2 separate regions of the Homo sapiens genome follow, and region 2 is linked to region 1. The links come from fine-mapping of genetic effects on gene expression. Tissue or cell type: blood mononuclear cells. Region 1 holds a variant in brackets; the other region holds the start of a gene. All regions are shown on one strand. Distances are from middle to middle.

Evidence for each region. PIP is the estimated chance that this variant, and not a neighbour inherited with it, causes the effect.
Region 2: it holds the start of PRRG4, and the variant in region 1 is fine-mapped to the expression of PRRG4 in blood mononuclear cells (TOPMed, PIP 0.95).

Annotation. Positions count from the first base shown.
Region 1 is chr11:32,866,003-32,874,108 of GRCh38, forward strand. No RefSeq gene overlaps it. Among named protein-coding and RNA genes, the nearest start is that of QSER1, 23 kb to the right of the region's middle. The variant A/G (reference allele first, on the strand shown) is at 4,000.
Region 2 is chr11:32,826,334-32,834,432 of GRCh38, forward strand. PRRG4 (proline rich and Gla domain 4) reads left to right here and starts at 3,594. Exons shown (of 6, transcript NM_024081.6): 1 at 3,594-3,840; 2 at 4,175-4,299. The coding sequence starts at 4,197. It also overlaps a transcript of CCDC73 not described here. RefSeq lists a silencer at 3,371-3,750 and enhancers at 4,171-4,220, 4,231-4,290.

The sequences.
Region 1 (8,106 bases):
GGCAGGAGAATTGCTTGAACCCAGGAGACGGAGGTTGCAGTGAGCTGACACGGTCCTACTGCATTCCAGCCTGGGCAACAGAGTGAGACTCTGTCTCAAATTAAAAAAAAAAGAAATGATGAAAAGGATGTTACCATTGACCCCACAGAAATAAAAATAATCATCAGAAACTACCATGAACACTTATATGCACACAAACTAGAAAACCTAGAAAAGATGGATAAATTCCTGGACATATACACCCTCCCAAGACTGAACCAGGAAGAAATTGACCCCCCGAACAGACCAATAGCAAGCTCCTACATTGAATCAGGAATAAACAGCCTACCAACCAAAAAAAGCCCAGGATGAGAAGAATTTGCAGCCAAATTCTACCAGATGTATAAAGAAAAGCTGGTACCACTCCTACTAAAACTATTCCAAAAAATTGAAAAGGAGGGACTCCTCCCCAATTCATTCTATGTGGCCAGCATGATCCTGATACCAAAACCTGGCAGAGAAACACATAAATAAGAAAATTTCAGGCCAATATCCTTGATGAACATTGATTCAAAAATCCTCAACAAAATACTTGCAAGCCAAATCCAGCAGCACATCAAAAAGCTAATCCATTATGATCTAGTAGGCTTCATCCTCAGGAGGCAAATTTGGTTCAACATACACAAATCAATAAATGTGATTTAGCACATAAACAGAACTAAAGTAAAAAACCACATGATTATCTCAATAGATGTAGAAAAAGCTTTTGATAACATTCAACATCCATTCATGTTAAAAACTCTCAATGAACTACGTATTGAAGGAACATACCTCAAAATAATAAAAGCCATCTATGACAAACCCACAGCTGACATTATACCAAATGGGCAAAAGCTGGAAGTATTCCCCTTGAAAACTGGCACAAGACAAGCATTCCTCTCTCTTACTACTTCTATTCAACATAGTACTGAAAGTCCTAGCCAGCGCAATCAGGCAAGAGAAAGAAATAAAGGGCATCCAAGTAGGAAAAGAGGAAGTTAAACTATCCCTGTTTGTAGATAACATGATTCTATATGCAGAAAGCCCCATAGTCTCGGCCCAAAAGCTCCTTCAGCTGATAAACAAACAACTTCAGCAAAGTTTCAGGATACAAAATCAATGTATAAAAATCACTGGCATTCCTATACACCACCAACAGCCAAGCTGAGAACCAAATTGAGGAAGGCAATCCCATTCACAATTGCCACAAAATGAATAAAATACATAGGAATACAGCTATCCAAGGAGGTGAATGATCTGTACAATGACAATTGCAAAACATGGCTCAAAGAAATCGAAGAAGACACAAACAAATGGAAAACATCCCATGCTCATGGACAGGAAGATTCAATATCACTAAAATGGCCATACTCCCCAAAGCAATTTACAGATTCAATGCTGTTCCTATCAAACTTCCAATGACATTATTCACAGAATTAGAAAAAAACTATTTTAAAATTCATACAGAACAAAAAAAGAGCCCAAATAGCCAAAGCAATCCTAAGCAAAAAGAACAAAGCTGGAGGCATCATGTTACCCAACTTCAACCTATACTACAGGGCTACAGTAACCAAAACAGCATGGTACTGGTACAAAAGCAGACACATAGACCCAGGGAACAGAATAGAGAGTTCAGAAGCAAGGCTGCACGCTTATGACCACAAGGTCTTTGACAAAGCTGACAAAAACAAGAAATGGGAAAAAGATTCTCTATTCAATAAATGGTGCTAGGATAACTGGTTAGCTATATGCTGAAGTTTGAAGCTGGACTCCTTCCTTACACCATATACAAAAATCAACTCAAGATGGATTAAAGACTTAAATGTAAAACCCAAAACTATAAAAACCCTGGAAGGCAACCTAGGTGATACCATCCTGGACATAGGAATGGGAAAAGAGTTCATGACAAAGACACCAAAAGCAATCACAACAAAACCAAAAATTGACAAATGGGATCTAATTAAATTTAAGAGCTTCTGCACAGCAAAAGAAACTATCAACAGAGTAAACAGAGGACCTACAGAATGGGAGAAAATACTTGCAAACTATGCATCTGACAAATGTCTAATATCCAGCATCTATAAGGAACTTAAATTTACAATAGAAAAACAATCAGGCTGGGCGCAGTGGCTCACGCTTGTAATCCCAGCACTTTGGGAGGCCGAGGTGGGTGGATCACAAGGTCAGGAATTCGAGACCAGCCTGGCCAATATGGTGGAACCCTGTCTCTACTAAAAATACAAAAAGTAGCTGGGCATGGTGGCATGCACCTGTAGTCCCTGCTACTCGGGAGGCTGAGGTGGAAGAATAGCTTGAACCTGGAAGGCGGAGGTTGCAGTGAGCCGAGATTGCACCACTGCACTCCAGCCTGGGTGACAGAGCAAGACTTCATCTCAAAAAAAAAAAAAAAAAAAAAGAAAAGAGAAAAGAAAAATAATCCCATTAAAAGTGGGCAAAGGACATGAACAGACACTTTTCAAAAGAAGACATACATGTGGCCAACAAGCATATAAGAAAAAAAATATATCACTGAACATTAGAGAAATGCAAATCAAAACCGCAATGAGATACCATCTCGCACAGTCAGAATGGCTATTATTAAAAAGTCAAAAAATAACAGATGCTGGTGAGGTTGCAAAGAAAAGGGAACACTTATACACTGTTGGTGAAAATGTCAATTAGATCAACCATTGTGGAAAACAGTATGGCGATTCCTCAAAGAACTAAAAACAGAACTATTTAACCCAGCAATCTCATTCCCGGGTATATACACCCAGAGGAATATAAATCATTCTAACACAAAGACACATGCACACGAATGTTCACTGCAGCACTATTCACAAAAGTAAAGACATGGAATCAACCTAAATGCCCATCAATGATAGACTGGATGAAGAAAATGTGGTACATATACACCATGGAATACTATGCAGCCATGAAAAAGAACAAGATCATGTCTTTTGCAGGAACATGGATAGAGCTGGAGGTTATTATCCTTAGCACACTAACGCAGGAAGAGAAAACCAAATCCCACATGTTCTCACTTATAAGTGGAAGCTAAATAACTCATGAACGCAAAGAAGGGAACAACAGACACTAGGGTCTACTTGAGGGTGGAGGGTGGGAAGAAGGAAGAAGCAGAAAAAATAACTATTGTGTACTAGGCTTAATACCTGGGTGATGAAATAATCTGTACAACAAACCCCCATGACACAAGTGTACCTATATAACAAGCCTTCACATGTACCTCTGAACCTAAAAGTAAAACAATAGAGTAAAAAATAAAATAAAGTGAAAATAAAATAAAATAATGTGAGTAGAAATAAAGAACTACTTGTGATAAAATAATCCATCAATGTATGGCTCAAAATTAAAGCTTGTTTTAATATAATTTTAATGTAAGCTATGTCTCAAGATAAACTAACTGAAATTCCTTTTTTTTTTTTTTTTTCAGACGGAGTTTCACTCTTATTGCCCAGGCTGGAGTGTAATGGTGTATTCTCCGCTCACTGCAACCTCCGCCTTCCCGGTTCAAACAATTCTCCTGCCTCAGCCTCTGGAGTAGCTGGGATTACAGGCGCGAGCCACCACACCCGGCTAATTTTTGTATTTTTAGCAGAGACGGTGTTTCACCATGTTGGCCAGGCTGGTCTCAGACTCCTGACCTCAGGTGATCCGCCTGTCTTGGCCTCTCAAAGTGCTGGGATTACAGGTGTGAGCCACTGCGCCCGGCCTGAAATTCTTTTAAAAAATAATAATTAAGGCCAGGCACAGTGGCTCATGCCTGTAATCCCAGCACTTTGGGAGGCTAAGGCAGGCAGATCATGAGGTCAGGAGTTCGAGACCAGCCTGACCAACATGGTGAAACCCCATCTCTACTAAAAATACAAAAATTAGCCAGGCATCGTGGTGCGCACCTGTAATCCCAGCTACTCGGGAGGCTGAGGCAGGAGAATTGCTTGAACCCGGGAGGTAGAGGTT[A/G]CAGTGAGCTGAGATTGCCCCACTGCACTCTAGCCTGGGCAACACAGCGAGACTACATCTCAAAAAATAAAAATAAAATAAAATTTAAAAATAATAATTAGGCCGGGCGCGGTGGCTCATGCCTGTAATCCCAGCACTTTGGCAGGCCGAGGCAGGTGGATCACCAGAGGACAAGAGTTCAAGACCAGCCTGGCCAACATGGTGAAACCCCGTCTTTACTAAAAATACAAAAATTTGCTAGGTGTGGTAGCGCCTGCCTGTAATCCCAGCTACTCAGGAAGCTGAGACAGGAGAATCACTTGAACCCGGGAGGCGGAGGTTGCATTGAGCCAAGATCGCACCACTGCACTCCAGCCTGGGTGACAGAGCGAGACTCCATCTCAAAAAAAAAAAAAAAAATAATAATAATAATAATAAACTAATAAACACATAGAAACCAAAACAAATGTAACACTCCCAAACTCATTCCTGAAAAGGGGCACTGCAGAAATGTTATCAAGAATCTTATCTTACACCAAATGATACACAAGCAACCCATGCTATGTCCAAATGACACAAAAGCTCAAATAGCATAGACAGAGGATTCCCCGTGTGTGCCCTGGTTTGACTTACCCAGTCTTGGGGCCCATCAACTCCCTTGGATACCACTTGCACCACCAAAGTGTTACAGGCTGCTGATTCCATGAAGGGGACAGAAGAGAGGGTCCCCAAGACAAAAGATTTCTCAGTTGCTGCTAGGACACTCCTGGAATCCCAGCCACAGAGGCAGCTAGCCATGAGCAGCAACTAGCACTCATAAGCGGTTGCTGCTCTGCCTGATAACATGAACAGGTAAGCCCTGGTGCACTGCTGCAGCCAATTGCTCCATCCATGGAAACCAGGCAGGCTAGACCACCAGAGGGCACACAGCCCCACATTGGGTGCCAAATTTTGTAACTGAACCTATGTTTGGCTGCTTGCTGCTCAAAAACCAGACACGAGAAATGAGGGTTGGTGGGAGGAAAAGCCAGATTTATTTGGAAAGCCAGCAAAACCAAGAAGATGGTGAATTCATGTTTAAGAAATCATTGTCTACTCAAGGTTGTGAAGATTTTTTTTTTTGAGACGGAGTCTCGCTCTGTCGCCCAGGCTGGAGTGCCGTGGCGCCATCTCGGCTCACTGCAACCTCCACCTACTAGGTTCAAGCAATTCTCCTGCCTTAGCCTCCCGAGTAGCTGGGACTACAGGCACATGCTGCCACCCCTGGCTAATTTTTTTTTTTTTTGTATTTTAGTAGAGATGGGGTTTCACTGTGTTGCCCAGGCTGGTCGCGAACTCCTGAGCCCAGGCAATCTGCCCACTTCAGCCTCCCAAAGTGCTGGGATTACAGGCGTTGAGATACCGCACCCAGCCAGAAGATTTCTTTTTAATGTTTTCTTCTAGTCACTTTATAAATGCAGCTTTTACATGTAAGTCTAATTTTTATGTTTATCAGGTAAGAGCTGAAGTTCATTTTCTTCCATGCAACTATGCAGTTGTTTTAGCAACACATCTTTAAAAGGCTGTCCTTTCTCCGCTGAATTATCTTGGTACCTTTGCTGAAAATCAATTGATCACACATATGGGGTTCTGTTTTACTGATCATAGTTTATCCTTATATCAATATCATATTATCTTGATGACTGTAGCCTTGTCATAAGTCTTCAAAAGAAGTAGTCTAAGTTCTCAAACTTTGTTCTTTCCCAAAAAATTTTTGGCTATTTAATACATTTAACATTGCATACATTTTGGAATTAGCTAGTCAATTTCTAAATCAAAAGACTGCTGAAAATTTGACTAGAATTGCATTTAATTTATAGAAAAACTTACATGTATTAAACAATCCATAGTTTTTTTGTTTGTTTGTTTGTTTTTTTAGACAAAGTCTTGCTCTGTTGCCCAGGCTGGAGTGCAGCGGTGCGATCTCAGCTCACTACAACATCTGCCTCCCAGGTTCAAGTGATTCTCCTGCCTCAGCCTCCTGAGCAGCTGGAATTACAAGTGCATGCCACCATGCCCAGATAATTTTTGTACTTTTTGTAGAGACAGGGTTTCACCATGTTGGCCAGGCTGGTCTCGAACTCCTGACCTCAAATGATCTGCCTGCCTCAGCCTCCCAAAATCCTGGGATTACAGGTGTGATCCACTGTGCCCAGCCCATAGTATGTTTTCTCATGTATTAAGATCTTTTAAATTTATCTCAGCAATGTTTATAGGTTTCGGTATATAGGAGTTACGTCTATTTTGTTAAATTCATCCTTAAGTACTTAATGTCTTTTTACACTGTTCTAGATGACATCTTTAAAATTTAATTTTCCAACTTTCTTTCCAAGAGAATTCCAATTATGTTTTCAAGAGAATTGAAAACGTATGTTCACATAAAAAATTGTTTATAGCAGCATTATGCGTAATAACCAAAAAGTGGAAACTCCCAAATGTTCATCAACCTATGAGTGAATAAACAAAAAGTAGTATATACATACAAGGGGATATTATTCAGTTAGAAAAAGGAATGAAGTACTGACACATGCTACAACATTGGTAAACCTTGAAAGCATTTCAGTAAGTGAAAGAAGCCAGACACAAAAGCCCACATATATCGGGTGATTCCATTTATATGAAATGTCGGAATAAGCAAATCCATAAAAATGGAAAGTAGATTAGCCATTGACAGGAACTGTGCGGAATGGGAAATGATGAGCAAGTGCCAATAGATAAGAGGTTTTTTTTCAGGGTGATGTAAATGCTCTAGAATTAGATACTGGTGATGTTTACACAATTTTAAGTACATATTAAAAACCACTGGACGGGCACAATGGTTCATGCCTGTAATCCCAGCACTTTGGGAGGCTGAGATGGGCAGATCACGAGGTCAGAAGTTCAAGACCAGCCTGGCCAATGTGGTGAAACCCCGTCTCTACTAAAAGTACAAAAAAACTAGCCCGGCGTGATGGGGCATGCCTGTAGTCCCAGCTACTCGGGAGGCTGAGGCAGGAGAATCGCTTGAACCCAGGAGGCGGAGGTTGCAGTGAGCCGTGATTGTGCCACTGCGCTCCATCCTGGGCAACAGAGGGAGACTCCATCTCAAAAACAAAAAGCAACAAATACTGTATTGTATACTTTTAAATGGTGAGTTTTATGGTACACGAATTATACCTTGATTTTAAAAAAATTTATTTTCCAATTGCTTATTGTTAGTATATAAAAATATAATTAATATTTGGTTATTGAACTTGTATCCTACGATCTTGCTAAATTCAACTTTTAGTGCTATGGTTTGCATGTGTTCCCCCAAAAGCATGTATTGAAAACTTAATCCCCAATGCAGGAGTGTTGGCAAGTAAGAACTAATGACAGGCAATTAGGCCTTGAGGGCTCCACCCTCATGAATAAATTAGTGATGTTATTGTGGAAGTGAGTTCATTATTGTAGAAGTGGGTTCATTGTAAAATTCTCTTTCTTGCCCTCTTACCTTCTGCCATGAGATCACACAGCAAGCAGTCCCTTGCCAGCCTCTCAGTCTTGGACTTCCCAGCCACCAGAACCATGAGCCAAATAAATCTCTGTTCTTGGGCATCCTGTTACAGTAGCACAAAAAAGCAAAAATAGAAAATTGGTACCGGAGAAGTGGGGTATTGTTATAACAAATACCTGAAAATGTGGAAGTGACTTTGGAAGTGGGTAATGGGTAGAAGCTGAAGAATTTGGAGGAGAAGCCTAGAAAAAAAAAAAAACCTGTACAGAGCATTAAGGCTCAGAAGAAGAGATAGCTGTTAGGAAAGTCTGAAATTTCTTAGAGACTGCTTAAATGGTCGTGACCAGAATGTTGGTGGAAATGTGGACAGTGAAGACTATTCTGATGAGTCTCAGATGAAAATGAGGAGCAAGGTATTGGAAACTGGAAAATGGGTCATCCTTGTTATAAAGTGGCACACAAGTTAGCTGAATTGTGTCCATGCTCAAGGGCTTTATGGAAGACAGAACTTAAGAACCATGAACTAGGACATCTGGCTGAAGTAAAATCTAAGAAGCAAAGCATTATGAAGCTGCGTGGCTTCTCTTAACTATATGTGGTAAATTTAGAGTGGA
Region 2 (8,099 bases), 40 kb before region 1:
CTTCAAGAGGCTAATGATAGTCATCGATGTGCCTTTAAGGATGTGGAGGTGACTTTACTTACAGAGCTTCATGGCTGCAATCTTAACATCTCCTGTCACAGTCCTTGAGTCCATCCTCATGCCCACACAGTAAAGTGAGTTTTCATTTCATTCTTGAATTCACACAGGTAAGTGGGCGGGTATGTGCTCAAATTCAGAGATGCATTATCACATTAATCCAAGTCCATTAATCTCATTGCTCCAATTTTTTTTCTTATTCCCTCTGAACTAAATAATTCTTTACCTACTGCCCTTTATTGCTTGATAATAACTCAAAAAAAAAAAAACAAAAAAAAAAACCCAGAGTCAAGAACCAAGCTACTACTTGGCCGATGACTATTCATTTACTTCATGCTTCAATATCCCTCTTTGTAAAATGAGAATTATAATATCTAGCCCAACTCCACAGATAGCCAGTATAAGAAAAATACCATCTGTGAGAACACTTAAAATGCTTTGGAAGAAAGGCATAAGAATATTATAACATTATTATTATTATAATTATTGAGATGGAGTTTCACTCTTGTTGCCCAGGCTGGAGGGCAATGGCGCGATCTCGGCTCACTGCAACCTCTGCCTCCTGGGTTCAAGCGATTCTCCCGCCTCAGCCTCCCGAGTAGCTGGACTTACAGGTGCCTGCCACCATGCCTGGCTAATTTTTTTTTGTATTTTTAGTAGAGACGGGGTTTCACTGTGTTGGCCAGGCTGGTCTCAAACTGCTGACCTCATGATCTGCCCGCCTAGGCCTCCCAAAGTGCTGAGGTTACAGGTGTGAGCCACCGTGCCCGACCAAGAATATTATAACTTTAAATAGCAGATGGCACAAAATAAAATTAATACAGCAAGGAAATAATAGAAGAAATCAGCTCTCTTGGGCATTGTTGTTACTGGCTTTTCTCATTTCTCTCTTTGCCATCTAACCTCAAAATATCTTGCAGCTCCGTAGTGACTGAAGTTTGTGTGCATGCTGCCAAATGCTGTAACATTCTCTAGGACTCAATGTTACAGGGAAACACACAGGGATGTAATTCACTACTGAGAAACAGACTTCATTTCTCTGTCTGCCTCCCTCTCTGTCTATAAACTCTGATATTTGATGTCAGCACAAGGCCTCATTTGTTTTGGTCCAAATATCCAGATATGTGGGCAGACTCATTTTACCAAGGAATGTCATCAAAGTTCACAACTGCTGATTCCATAGCATGAGGCATTTGACCATTGGCCTCTCCCCAAAGTAGTGGGAAATGAAGCACTTTTCCTACCTGAAGATAAATTGCTTCCACTCCATGAAAATGTATTCAGCACGAACAATGTAGAAAGCACTCCCCTGGGTACTGTCGAGAATGCAAAAATGAATAAGTCAGTTCTTGCACTTGATAAGAACTTTACAGGCCCACATTCTCAGATATAGGTCTCAGTCAGATTAAGTTCTCCTCCACAACAGAAGCTGTGGTGTCCATCTCCCCACCAGGAGGTCTCAGTGCTGTAGGTTGACTCAATGAATAAACAGGAAAATGGGTGTTCTAGTGAAAATGTTTCCTATTCTTGTGTTCAACCACAATAAACCATGTCTGGCCTCTTCATAGTCTGATCCCAATTGCTTGAATAAGAGGGAAAGAAGAATCCATCATAGAAATAGTTTAGACCACGAGGTAGACAAATGGAAAGTGAAGAGGAAGGGATTGGAAGAAGGGAAAGGAAAAGCACTGCCTAGAAGGAATCAGTGAAAACAAAATTTCTGCAGAAAACTTAGGAATAATTCAGTTGATTATCAATAATAATAATAAAATAGACAATATCCTTTGGGAGGAGAAAAACAGAATTTGGTAAAAATTGAATTAGTCAAAAATTTGAGGCCGGGCACAGTGGCTCATGCCTGTAATCCCAGCACTTTGGGAGGCCGAGGTAGGTGGATCACCTGAGGTCAGGAGTTTGAGAACAACCTGGCCAACATGGTGAAAACCCCTCTCTCCTAAATGTACAAAAAATTAGCCGGGCGTGGTGGTGGATGCCTGTAATCCCAGCTACTCGGAAGGCTGAGGCAGGAGAATCGCTTGAACCCAGGAGGCGAAGGTTACAGTAAGCCAAGATTGTGCCACTGTACTCCAGCCTGGGTGACAGAGCAAGACTCTGTCTCAAGAAAAAAAAAAAAAAAATGAAGGGGGAAAAAATGTTTCCCTTGGTCCCCAGCAAGTGCCAGACCACTTCGACCAAAGCATAAATAGTGTTTCAAAGAACTGTTAAGCACGTTCTTTGGATAAAGAAGGATGTGACCATCACCTGGCATAGGTACTCTGTCCACCTGCTGCCTTCATTACTTGATGCAGCAGTTTTTGAAGTCTTTAATCAAGACCTTTTTACGCTCTTTTACATTATCAAGGACCCCAAAGAGCTTTCACTTATGTGAATTTTATCTAATGATATTTATTATCTAACATTAAAACTGAGAAATTTTCAAAATATTATTTGAAATCAAGACAACAAAGCTTACTTTTTGTTATGTTTATGCATAGACTCAAGGAAAAGATCAAGATTTCAAGATAATTACTTCAGAAAAATGAGGTTATAGCTATCCTAGTAGATATGAACAAATAGAACTAATCAAAGTACAAAAGCAGTAGCCAAGAGAGTTGGTGGACACCTGTAGTCCCAGCTACTCTGGAGGATGAGACAGGAGGATCTCTTGAGCCCAGGAGTTCCTGGGCAACAAAGTGAGACCCCCTACTCTGAAAAAGAAAAAAGGAAAGAAAAAAAATTAAGTTCACAAGTACTGAGAACAAATTTTATTAATCTCTATAAATCTACATAAATCTCTATAAAATGTACATACTGATAATGTAAACATACTACTATGGAAAATACCAGAAAATACAAGCACGCTCACTCAGGTATTCTATTAGGAGACAGAATGATGACGTTATTACACTTCAAATAGCCCCTGGAAATTTCCACTGTACACTCTTGAGAGAATGAAAGTGAAAATGGCAAATCATTTATTGTTACTATAATGGAAATAGTTTTGCCCTCAGAGACCCCTGGAAAAGATCTTGGAGACATCCCAGACCTGGCGGACCACCATTGGAGAACCAATGTAATCAATTACTTGTAAGGTCATTTCCATTTCTTATCACGAATAAAGGGTATTTTGTCTGATGAATATCTTGTCCTCGTCCCCGGACCACCCTTTTGAGAACAGTTGACCTAAGGTAACCACAGGACTCCTGGCCCAGTGGGACCCAAAGCGAAAAGCCCTGGACGCGCCGAGGGCGCTCTGCTTAAGACTGAGAACCGAAATGCTTCCTGAATTAGGATCATTGAGAACGCCGAGTGCAGACACAAATCGAAAAGCAGCCACCCGCGCCGCCAAGGCGGGGCCAGAACTGGCGGCAGGCGGCTGGCCCGCCCGGGGATGGGGCAGAAGCTGGGGCGGCTGAGAGCGCAGCGCGGGCTCCCGGGAGACGCCGGCCCACTGCCCGCCCGCTCGCCGCAGGTAGGCCCGGCCCCCGGGAGGTGGGGCGCGGCCAGGTGTCCCCAGGTAGCCGCCTCCTCCCGTCCTCCGTCGGCCGCCTCCCCGGACCGAGGCAGGACCTCACCCCGCGCGTGTTCCCCGGGCGCCCCTCTGCGAACCCCAGGCCCTTCCCAGGTTTGCGCGCGGGGGCCATCCAGACCCTGCGGAGAGCGAGGCCCGGAGCGTCGCCGAGGTTTGAGGGCGCCGGAGACCGAGGGCCTGGCGGCCGAAGGAACCGCCCCAAGAAGAGCCTCTGGCCCGGGGGCTGCTGGAACATGTGCGGGGGGACACAGGTACGAGGCCTGGCGGCAGGACCTCGGCGGGGAGGGGGTTACCTGGAAGGGGCCACCTCGGCGGACTGGGTTGGATTCGAACACATAGCGAGGGTTGCCCGCGGCGACAGGTGCCCGATCAGCCCTCGGCAGGGTCACTGGGCACGGCGTTTGTCCCAGGCGCTCTCAGGGGCTGCTTCCTGGGCGCGCGTCGGGTTCCGGCGACCGAAACCGCGCGCCGGGCGCTCTTGCGCCTAGGCTTTGAGTACAACAGGTTGGTGATTCAGTTCGACAGAAACTCAAAGTGCTGAGCTAGGGGCCTTTTTTTTTTAATATTTTTTTTTGTTTGTTTTAGTTTGTTTGACAGTTGCCAGACTATGTTTACGCTTCTGGTTCTACTCAGCCAACTGCCCACAGTTACCCTGGGGTTTCCTCATTGCGCAAGAGGTCCAAAGGCTTCTAAGCATGCGGGAGAAGAAGGTAAGCACTAAAACGTCCCTGGAACCCAGAGCCGCATAGCACAGATCTCAGTGAGAAAGTGCAGTATTTGAAATTACATACCCCCAGCAATCATAGAAACACTAAAATATCCTTTAGTTTAATTTGTGGCATATTTGGCAAGGTTGTGTTTTTTTATGTTCTTTAACTGCAATTTATAGAATTTGATGTCTGTGAGTCTCCTTTAATAAGTATATACGTAAGACCTAGTTTGTGGTTAATTGAATGGAAAACCTATTTCAGCTTCTGAAAATCAGTGAGTGACATTTCTCTAGATGAAGCTGTGTGGCGATTATAATAAGCATAATTACTTGTTCTTCCTGGAGAGGCGAACGGGGAGTCCAGGATCTAGTCTGGACTTGCGAGACCCTGGGCGAGATAACTTAATCCCGTTTGGCTTGAATGTCTTCATCTGTAAAAGTGATGCGGGTGGGGCGTAAAATGATCTCTGAGGTCCTTTTTGACTTCAGATGGTCTAGTTGTCTAGATAAAAGCAGCTAGTTGAGAAAAGATTAGGTTTGGGGCTTGCTAACCTGGAAGTCCACAGTTTTTAGGTTTCAGATCATTAACAGTTTGTTTCCTGCCTATATCTTAAAAGCCTAACCTAGTAAAACCAGAAGAAAAAAAAAGCCTCTGTCTCTCAGCATCCTTCTCCCTGACTATTCATGGTGCTTCCCCACTCAGTGTCAGTACTCTGGATCCACGTCCCCACACATTCCTGTCTCTTATCCCTTCTCATCAGATCCGATTCTCAGCTCATTTTCATTTGGGAAGGATCTGTTACACTAGTACTCCTAACTGACTTTATTAATGATTAATACAGCTGTGTTTGTGTGTGTTGAGCTAGAACAATCCATTAACCCAAAGGCGTGAAACTCTGATGACAGAATTCTAGCAACTGGATAGGCTAGCTAGAGAGAGAGGGAGAGATTTTGGAAGAGGATCCTTTTTAGTCCCTCTCAAGCTGCACCATATATGTAAGTCCACTTAGAAGGTTGCACTTATAAGGTTCCATAATCAGATGCTCTTCCCTAAAATGATTGTGAGTGCAATCATTCATTCACATGACACGGGTATAAGAGACACTCTCGCCGGCACGGTGGCTCACACCTGTAATCCTAGCACTTTGGGAGGCCGAGGCAGGTGGATCACCTGCGGTCAGGAGTTCGAGACCAGCCTGGCCAACATGGTGAAACCCCGTCTCTACTAAATATACAAAAATTAGCCTGGCTTGGTGGCACGTGCCTATAATCCCAGCTACCCGGGAGGCAGAGGCTGCAGTGAGCTGAGATCGTGCCACTGCACTCCAGCCTGGGCGACAGAGTGAGACTCCATCTCAAAAAATAAAAATAAAAGCAAATAAATAAATAAATAAATAAAAGACAGTCTCAAGGACACCACAAGCTATGGAAGGAATTTAGAGATCATACTTGAGTGTGGAGGGCTGGAGATGTCTGTGGAAATGTGAATGAGGGATCCGACACATTTGAAAAGACAACTTGTTCAGTCAGTCACCACTTGATGAACACATGCTAAGTGCCAGGCCCCGTGCTGTGTGGTGGAGACATAGAAATGAAAGACTGCAATCTCTGCCCTGGAGGACATCTTCATCTGTGTGGGAGGCAGGGTGTTTGTTAAACAGACGATCTCCATCAACTGTATAACAGAAGCCAGAACACAGAACTGAGAGCAGAGGAAAGAGTGAGTAGCAGTAACTCTGCCTCAAGAGAGTTGTATGGCAGAGAAGCCAATGCCTTCCATCTGCAAATGGGCTATAATAAATGGAGATATGAAAAGTAACTGGAAATAAAGGACCTTTGGTGAAATTCTTTTTTTTTTTTTTTTTTTCAGACAGAGTCTCGCTCTGTCTCCCAGGCTGGAGTGCAGTGGCGTGATCACGGCTCACTGCAACCTCCACCTCCTGGGTTCAAGCAATTCTCCTGCTTCAGCCTCCCGAGTAGCTGGGATTACAGGTGCGCACCACTGTCCCAGCTAATTTATTTTGTATTTTTAGTAGAGACGGGGTTTCACCATGTTAGCCAGGCTGGTCTTGAACTCCTGACCTCAGGTGATCCTCCCACCTCGGCCTCCCGAAGGGCTGGGATTACAGGCGTGAGCTACCGCGCCTGGCCCTAAAATCTGATAAAGCATGACGGTAGAGTTGAAATGACTGAAAAGGAGCTATTTAGAAAACATGAGGAGATAGAAGTGAGGAGAAGAACGGAATATCTGGGTTGGTGAATTTATAGCAGTGAAATGCATGGACAGCCTCTTAGGATAGTCTAAGACAGGAAAAATAGAGAAGGGTAGAGAATCTAAGGAAGCAGAGCCAAGGCCATTGCATCCTCCAGCCATGGTCAAGGGGAAAATAGGAGCTCTTGCTAAAAGCCAAGGGTGTTTCAAGGGCAGGGAAGTTTGCTTCCTTTCAATTAAAAGCAAGTTCAGGGTTACTTAGAATCCAGTAACAAAAGACAATATTTCTCCTGAGATCCTAAGGGATGCAGGGAAAAATTTGATCTGGCACCAAAAGTCAGTCAGTGACAGAATCAGAACTTGCACACTCAGGGAAGTGGCAAGCAGCAGCCCCTGGAAGGCGGATTTAATACAGTGTTAATCATAATAGCATGATTAATCATAAATATCATATTTATGATATTGGCATAAATATTATTTCAGGAAAAATAAAAATGTTTGTGGCTCTCCCTTTTTCTGTTTCCTCTATCAAAGTAGCTTTTGAGTTCCATGGGGTTGTATTTTTAATAACTCAACCTACTGGAACAGAAGACTGTCATGAGAAATTTGGCACTGCTCTTTTTAGCCAATAAAATGTAAGGATCTGGACATATTTGAGAAGTATACAGAGGCAGATATCTAATTCTCCATTCTGAACTTAGATTTCATGCAGTAAGTATAGCTAAGTGAGGCAGGCTATGGGTTGCTTAATCAATAGTTTTATACTTTAAACCTATGCCGAGCTGAGAAACACCAGACTATACCTATGAATTGCTTCAACTGGTAGACTTTAGGTCCAAGAGTTTCCTCCCACTATAGCAAAGTTGAGTTTGTTCATTCAGTCAGTAATTTTTTGAGCACCTCTTATGGGCCAAGAACCAACATCCCTGCTTTAATGGAGCTTTTCTTCTAGTGAGGAGAACAGAGTGGTAACAAATAAGTAAAGCATATAGAAAACCAGATGGTGATGAGTACTATGGAGAAAGGCAGAGTGTGGACAGGGAGTGCCAGGGGTGGGTAGGGATGGGGTTTCAAGGTAGCATTGAACAAAATCCTGAAGGATGTGAGAGAGCAAACTGAAAGAAGAAAGTTCTGTTCAGAAGAAACAGTAAGTACAAAGGCCAGAGAGAACCAGGTGTGTTGGAAGCCAGCATAGCTACAACAGAATACGTGAGGGATAGTGGTGGGAGATGAGGTTAGAGAGGTAAGGGCTTGGGGACCAGACAGAGAAGGGCCTTGTAAGCCACTGTAATGACTTTGGCTCTTACTCTGCAGGGGGTGGAATTGCTGTTAGAAGGTTTTTAAAAAGCAAAGTAGGAACAGTCTATCTTGTCTTTTAAAGGGCCCTCTTTGGCTGTTATGTTAAAAACAGATGGTAGAGCAGCAAGGAGACCCATGGAAGACCATTGTAGGAATCCCAGTGAGGGGTGATGGAGGCTTGGAAAATTTTTCATTCTATGTCCATTTGGTGGTAATATAAAATCTACAAGAAGACAAAGGAGGAAACAGAATAGAAATATTTCATCACACTAGCCCCTCTATCTACCTTT